2 linked regions of the Homo sapiens genome follow. The protein of the gene in region 1 interacts with the protein of each later gene in a biochemical or structural test. Each region holds a gene or a part of one and is shown on either strand. Other genes may lie near its edges.

Region 1 (3,652 bases):
CTCTGGGAGGCCAAGAGGGGTGGATAGCTTGAGCCTAGGGGTTCTAGACCAGCCTGGGCAACATTGCAAAACCCTGTCTCTACAAAAAATACAAAAATTAGCTGGGAGTGGTGGTGTGTGCCTGTAGTCCCAGCTACTGGGGAAGCTGATATGGGAGAATCGCTTGAGCCCATGAGGTTGAGACTGCAGTAAGCTGAGATTGTGCCACAGCACTCCAGCCTGGGTGACAGAATGAGACCCTGTCTCAAAAATAAATAAGTTTTAAAAAATAATAAAAATAAATTTAAAAATGAGAAAGTTCTTACCTTGACAGGCTCATTTGGTAACAAGATTACTGGTCTGAACAGAGAAAGGGGAAGTATTGTCAGAATGAAGGAAGAGTAGCAGCAATATTTTATAAGTCACCAGGATTTATTTTTTGGTTAAAAAAAAACGACAAAACAGAAAAAAGAACGGTTAATACTTTCTGAGTCTGGGATCCATGTATTAACTGCTCTTTCTAACTATATATGAATGTTTAAGTTTCTATCTATTTCATCCCCCAGATCATTGTTATGGCATGCATGGAGTATGAAATGGGAAAGGTAAGTTACTTTCTAGTACCTGCTGACCTTAAAACAAAGGAAAGAAGAAAAAGGAGAGGGAAATTGGCAGCAGAACTTACCTGAGTGTACCTAGATAAAACTTATGTCATCTTCATAGTTTTCAGTTTGGGAATGCCACGTGATTCTCAGAGGATTTTTTTTTTCTCCTAAGAATCCTATTTGTTTGTTTTCTCAGTAGACCCTATGTTTTACAGTTAAAAACAAGGTATGCTTTTAAGATTAACAAATCACTTGCCCATTTCTATTAATTAGATATCTTTAACTGCCAGCCAGAGCTTTTAATCCTGTGCCGTCCAATATTGCATCCACCAGCCACATACAGCTATTGAGCATTTAAAATATGGCTAATGTGACTGGGGAACTCAATTATTTTAATTGATTTAAACTTAAAAACTGACATGCAATTCAGTTATCAGAAAGCTGTTTGAGTATGTGAAAATTTTTCAAATGTAAGTTTTATTAAATCTAAATGGAAATAAAATATTTCCAAAATTTGGCATCCTAATTGAGATTAGCTATAAATATAAAATATACACTGGATTTTGAAGACTTAGTAAAAAATGCCAAATATCTGATAATTATTTTATATTGGTTACATGTCAGAATGTTTTGATATATTGGGCTAAGATATGTTATTAAAATTAATTTCACCTCTTTTCATTTTTTAATATGTCTGTTTGAAAATTTAAAATTACATTTGTGGTTCACATTATATTTTTACTGGATATCACTGTTCTACTGTTGCCATTCTGAGTTGACAATTCTAATCAAAAGCAAGGGAACTAGGTATTTCACTTAGCTTGTGCAGCTGTTTTAGTAGACATATGATTTCTGTTAGTTCTTGTGAAATACTAAAAATAGGTCAAAGATTTCTATTTCTACTTTTTCAGACTCCCAGGAAGTCTGTAATTTATATATCCTTTAATGTTTGTTTTCCCATCTTTGGAGATTCCAATAATGTAGGGGTTGAAGCCCAAAGGGGTTAGACGCACCTAACCTAAGGTGAAGGACATAGAGCTGAATTTGCTTCCAAATGAGAGAGTGGAAAAGACTAGAATATATGGAGGGAAATCACTGTATTCTGCTTTGTGCAACAGAAAAAGTGTGAGCGCTACTGGGCTGAGCCAGGAGAGATGCAGCTGGAATTTGGCCCTTTCTCTGTATCCTGTGTAAGTGTAATGTCTGTTCTCATGTCTGAGTAAAGCCTCCAGGGTCTACCTTATAGAGAGCTTGTCTTTGCAATCACTAATACTTGAGTCTTCTTTTTCTTTTTAGGAAGCTGAAAAAAGGAAATCTGATTATATAATCAGGACTCTAAAAGTTAAGTTCAATAGTGTAAGTATAAAATAAGAATGATAAACTCAAAAGCCTATAGAGATCAGGCAAGTAAATATAGATGTGTGTAGCTCAGGCTGGGCATAAGACAATGGGAAGTGGTAGGGTCTTTGATGTCATGAATGAGTCTTCATATTCAAGAGAACTTTGAGCCTGGCCGACATGGCAAAAACCTGTCTCTACTAAAAACACACAAAAAATTAGCTGGGCGTGGTGGTGCATGCCTGTGGTTCCAGCTAGTCAAGAGGCTTAGGCAGGAGAAATCATTTAAGCCCTGGAGGTGGAGGTTGCAGTGAACCGAGATGGTGCCACTGTACTGCAGCCTGGGTGACAGAGCAAGACTGTGTCTCAAAGAAGAAGAAAAAAAGAAGAGACCATTGTTATAATATGTCTTCAATCTATTCTATACCATGGCACACATATAAAATGATAATATTTGTAGGGTGAACAGAAGCTGAACAGTGCATAGAGACTGGGGACCAGTTTGAGAGCTTAGGCTGCCCTAGGCCCTGCCCAGCTTCTCTAAGGCAAAAAGATTTAATATATCAGCATGATTGTGACACATTGGAGGCATACCAGTTGGGAAACACTGGTTTGAACTATTTTCATATCTAGCTATTTCCTCTTGTGAATGGGGCAGATGGGGACAAACCAATAGTAAGTGACCTGAAATCACTTTTAATGGTTTTCAGAAAGCATCTGGTCACCTGAGATCTATAGAGAAGAAACCGGAATAAATTTCAAAAAGGATATAGATACAACTTAGTATGCCGGACTGTTGTCTTGGTATAATGAGGTGGAGTTCTAACCACAAGTTGTCTTATTATCCTGGCTATTTTTAAAATAATTTCAACTTTTTTTTTTTTTTTTTTTTTTTTGAGACAGAGTCTCGCTCTGTCACCCAGTCTGGAGTGTGGAGTGTGCAGTGGTGCAATCTTGGCTTACTGCAACCTGAGCCTCCTGGGTCCAAGCAACTCTTGTGCCGTGGCCTCCCCAGTAGCTGGGACTACAGGTGCTCACCACCTTGCCTGGCTAACTTTTGTATTTTTAGTAGAGACAGGGTTTCCCCATGTTGGCCAGGTTGGTCTTGAACTCCTGACCTCAAGTAATCTGCCTGCTTCGGCCTCCCAAAGTGCTAGGATTACAGGCGTAAGCCACCACACCCAGCCTCAACTTTAATCTTATGAATATAAGACACAAGGGCGTAAATGTGCAGGTTTGTTGCATGCATGCCACTGAATAATCCCATCACCCAGGTAGTGAGCATAATACCCAATAGGTGGTTTTTCAGCCCTTGCCCCTCTTCCCCTCCCATCTGGCTACTTTTTATAGGAAACTCGAACTATCTACCAGTTTCATTACAAGAATTGGCCAGACCATGATGTACCTTCATCTATAGACCCTATTCTTGAGCTCATCTGGGATGTACGTTGTTACCAAGAGGATGACAGTGTTCCCATATGCATTCACTGCAGGTATGACACTATATATAAACCTTCTACCCAAAATGAACCAAATGTCAGAGTCTGGCCAGGACTGTGTAATTGAAAGGGGAAAAGGTTAATAGCAAAAACAAACGATAATAAATTCAACCTAAGCATTAAATTCATGTTTTTCTGATAAGTTACTTGTGAGTAGTACAGTTCTAGAGACTCTTGCTCTGAGATGTTGCCTAGGACCTCTTGCATGACAAATGGGCTCTGGGAAATGGT
Region 2 (3,652 bases), on another chromosome or scaffold:
AGAGACAGGGTTTCACCGTGTTAGGCAGGATGGTCTTGATCTCCTAACCTCGTGATCCACCTGCCTTGGCCTCCCAAAGTGCTGGGATTACAGGCATCAGCCACCATGCCTGGCCCTCTGTAGCTTTTTTAGGTTCATGACTATTCCCAAAACATGAGGTGGCTTAACAATCGCTTTCTTGAACCTGAACTAGTAGAAAATGTTTTGTTCCCTACAGCAGGGGTTATTAAATTTAGCTTAACATTATGCCATAATTTCTTAAATCATTTCTTACTCATGGACTTTTAGAGATCAAATAATCCAATCTTTCGTAATCATAAGCAATGCTTCAATAAATATCTTCGTATATGTATCTATACCATGTGTTTGTCATAAATACATGCATACCTGTACCAAAAAAAAAAAAAAACTAGAGGAGGCCAGGAGCAGTGGCTCGTGTCTGTAATCCGAGCACTTCGGGAGGCCGAGGCAGGCGGATTCCCTGAAGTCAGGAGTTCGAGTCGAGACCAGCCTTGCCAACATGGTGAAACCTCATCTCTACTAAATATACAAAAATTAGCTGGGCATGGTGGCACACGTAATCCCAGCTACACAGGAGGCTGAGGCAGGAGAATTCCTTGAGCCCGGGAGACGGAGGATGTAGTTGAGCCAAGACTGTGCCACTGCACTCCAGCCTGACAGAGCGAGACTGTCTTTAAAAAAAAAAAAAAAAAAGCTAGAGGAAAACTTGACAAAGGGCTAGAGCTGTATTTTTAATGCTGACCCACTTATATTTTTAATGTTGACCCCCTATCACTCAATTCAATGGCTCTCCTGAAGGCTATCTTCTCTCAAAGAAACATGAGCTCATAAAACTAATAAAAAAAATTTTCTCAGTAATATTACACTTACCTTCATTTTAAGCCTAAAAATAATTTTTATTCTCAGTAATATTACACTTACCTTCCTTTAAGCCTAAACCCCTCCCCAAAATTGTTTACTTTTACTGGCAAAGGTAGCACAGCCAATGAAGAAAATTTTAAGTTTAAAATTCAGGCATATAAAAAATATAGATGACTTTAAACCTATCACGATAAACTACGGTTAATAAATCTTCAAAACTCACATTCTATCACTCCAAGTATCTGAAAATTCTTACATTTTCGGCTGAAAAAAGCCTTTCCACAACCTTCGAAAAGGAGATGTGTTTGAGATATTTTTTAAGTAGCCCCAGGAATCATGCAACTGGACAGTCTCTTAGAGATCAACTAATCCAACTAGGCCCAAGATTTTATTGTTGAGGAAAATGAGGTCACGGGACTTTAAGAGAGTAGACTACATCTGGACGAAATCAGAACCCCATGCTTCCTGCCCTGGACACTAGCTCTTGCCCTTGACACTACACAAGGGCATTCACTTACACAGATCAGTTATTATACTGTTGGTGCCTAAACCACCTTTCATGACATAAAGTAATCAATCAATTATTGATTGACACTTCATATCAGACTGTACTCAGTGTTGCAGGAGACTCATATGTATATAGCAGTCCTCAACATACATTTGGGGTGTGTGTGTGTGTGTGTGTGTGTGTGCGTGTGTGTATGCAATCCAAGGGCTTGGGGGCTGTAAGTACAGTTGGAAGCAGATGAGGAAGTGCACTGAGTACCAAAGAGTGAGCGACAAGGAATAAAAATCTAAGCAGAATTTAATCTAAATTTTCCTTAAAGAGACTATTATAACATAAATCATAATGTTTAAATCTACATCTTTCAAAAAGTCCCATTTAGCTTGTGAATTCACCTTGTTCTGCCTACTTTAGACCTATCACTTCATACATGCAGAAGATATAGCTCTTACTAAAACATTAATATGTATATACCTCTTCCTTGGCATGGATAAGGTTGTTTAATTAAAACTTACATGTATTTAGTTAAATACAAAGACTAGCATCTGCTCAAATTAACTGATGTCTTTTTCTGAAAAATTAAAATAAAAATAAAATTTTAGTAGAAAAAAACAGAAATGTGAGACACAGTGATTTGTTGGTACCAATTATGTTTCAACTTAAAACTCTTAACTTGAAAATACTTAGGTTCTAGCAAGTATACTGCTGTCAGAGCGAAATACTTATTCAGATGACAAAATCCAAATTTAAAAATCTATCACATTTTTAAATGGCTGACAAAAACCACCACCAAATCTAAGCAGTGCCTAAACTTGATTACTTTTTTGTATTTGAGCCAAAAGAACAAATCTGAATGTTAACCTGGGAAAAATGGTAGTGTATATACGAACACAACACTTCTTAAATAACAGCTCTGATTTTTAAAAATCACTCTTCTAACTTCATAATAACCCCTTGAAAAGAAGATGGGGATTTTAATCACTTAGGATTAAAAAAAATAGGATTTAAAGCAAGATTAACTGTTGCTTTAAGTCTTGACATTTCCCTATTAATAACCCTAAAGCTTAATGAGGCACAACAGATTTAAGAATTGAAATTGTTAATGAAAAAGAAAATTAAGGACAGTTTGGTGCTCTATACCATCATGAAAATAATCTGCTCCAGAAAGATTTTAGTCTCTACATGTAAAAAGCAAGAAATATCTAAAAAGTATTTCCTTGTAAAATCTCAGTCTGAACTTTTAGAAGGTTAGGGCAGACTTTGATGAAAGTATAAAAGTCAGAAAGTACCTATGGTTTAATATATAGTGTTTTAAAAACAAGTGAGGATACATAAAATACTGTTTTTCAAATTACACCTAGTATGTTTGTAACCTTTCACCTATTAGTAATGACCGCATGCCTCAAGTTAAGAAAAGCAAAGAAATATACATAACTGTGTCTAGTAAGTAAACTCTGAACACCAAGTTAACTCTTCTTATTTTCACAAGAACTTATGTTTCAAAAGCACATGAAAATCAAATAAATACTGAGAATAAACACGATTTACACTTAAAATCACTGCTGAATCCTTGCCACATTCTAGAACAAAGCTGCTTCTTTTTATGTATACTTCATATGTTGAATATTAATTTCTTTAAAATCTGTACCTAATAGGTGAAAAACACATAAGGTTTATCCATCGTTTTTCCAAGGTCCTCACGCAGGGTTGAAACCAGGATCTGTTAAGTCTTAGAAATGAATTTCTATGAACATTAAAATACTGTCCTAGATGCCCCATAACCCATACAAACGTATTTAAATTAGAACAATGGGGTTATGCAATTAAGATGTGAACTAGAAAAACAACACAGGTTTCTAATATATTAATTAACTAGGTCAATGGTAAAAGCAACATTGATTTTTTTTCTTAACAATAAACCTATGTAAAGATTTGAAAGTCACTTGTATTATTTAAAAGGAAAGCTAGTTATAACTTTGTGATATAATATTTTATACTTTTATCAGGTAAGCTGAATGCTCAAATTCGGATTTTTTAATATAAAAAAGGCTAACATCTTAAAATAAGACTAAAGAAAATCTTGATGTTGAACATCATAACATGCAAGATTGACTAGAATTATGTAAATCTACATAACAAGACTAACTAAACTAGTAATTTCTCTAAGTAAAATAAGGTACACAGACACTTCAGTTAACAATTCAAGGCACAGAGTCCTTTGAATATTCAATTATATTTAGCTTGTAAAAAAACAAGGGTGCTCCG

What was found. The genes of interacting proteins can lie anywhere in the genome.
Region 2: of the proteins of PTPN22 (region 1) and CDH2, one has a biochemical effect on the other in vitro, tested with the Homo sapiens proteins (one large-scale study listed by IntAct).

The regions. Positions count from the first base shown.
Region 1 is NC_000001.11:113,854,670-113,858,321, reverse strand, and holds part of PTPN22 (tyrosine-protein phosphatase non-receptor type 22), read left to right. Parts: intron 1-305; exon of another isoform or gene 306-339; intron 340-545; coding exon 546-584; intron 585-664; exon of another isoform or gene 665-786; intron 787-1,597; exon of another isoform or gene 1,598-1,687; intron 1,688-1,702; coding exon 1,703-1,774; intron 1,775-1,880; coding exon 1,881-1,940; intron 1,941-3,272; coding exon 3,273-3,415; intron 3,416-3,652. UniProt on the Homo sapiens protein: Acts as a negative regulator of T-cell receptor (TCR) signaling by direct dephosphorylation of the Src family kinases LCK and FYN, ITAMs of the TCRz/CD3 complex, as well as ZAP70, VAV, VCP and other key signaling molecules.
Region 2 is NC_000018.10:28,170,530-28,174,181, forward strand, and holds part of CDH2 (cadherin-2 isoform 1 preproprotein), read right to left. Parts: intron 1-3,652. UniProt on the Homo sapiens protein: Calcium-dependent cell adhesion protein; preferentially mediates homotypic cell-cell adhesion by dimerization with a CDH2 chain from another cell. Cadherins may thus contribute to the sorting of heterogeneous cell types.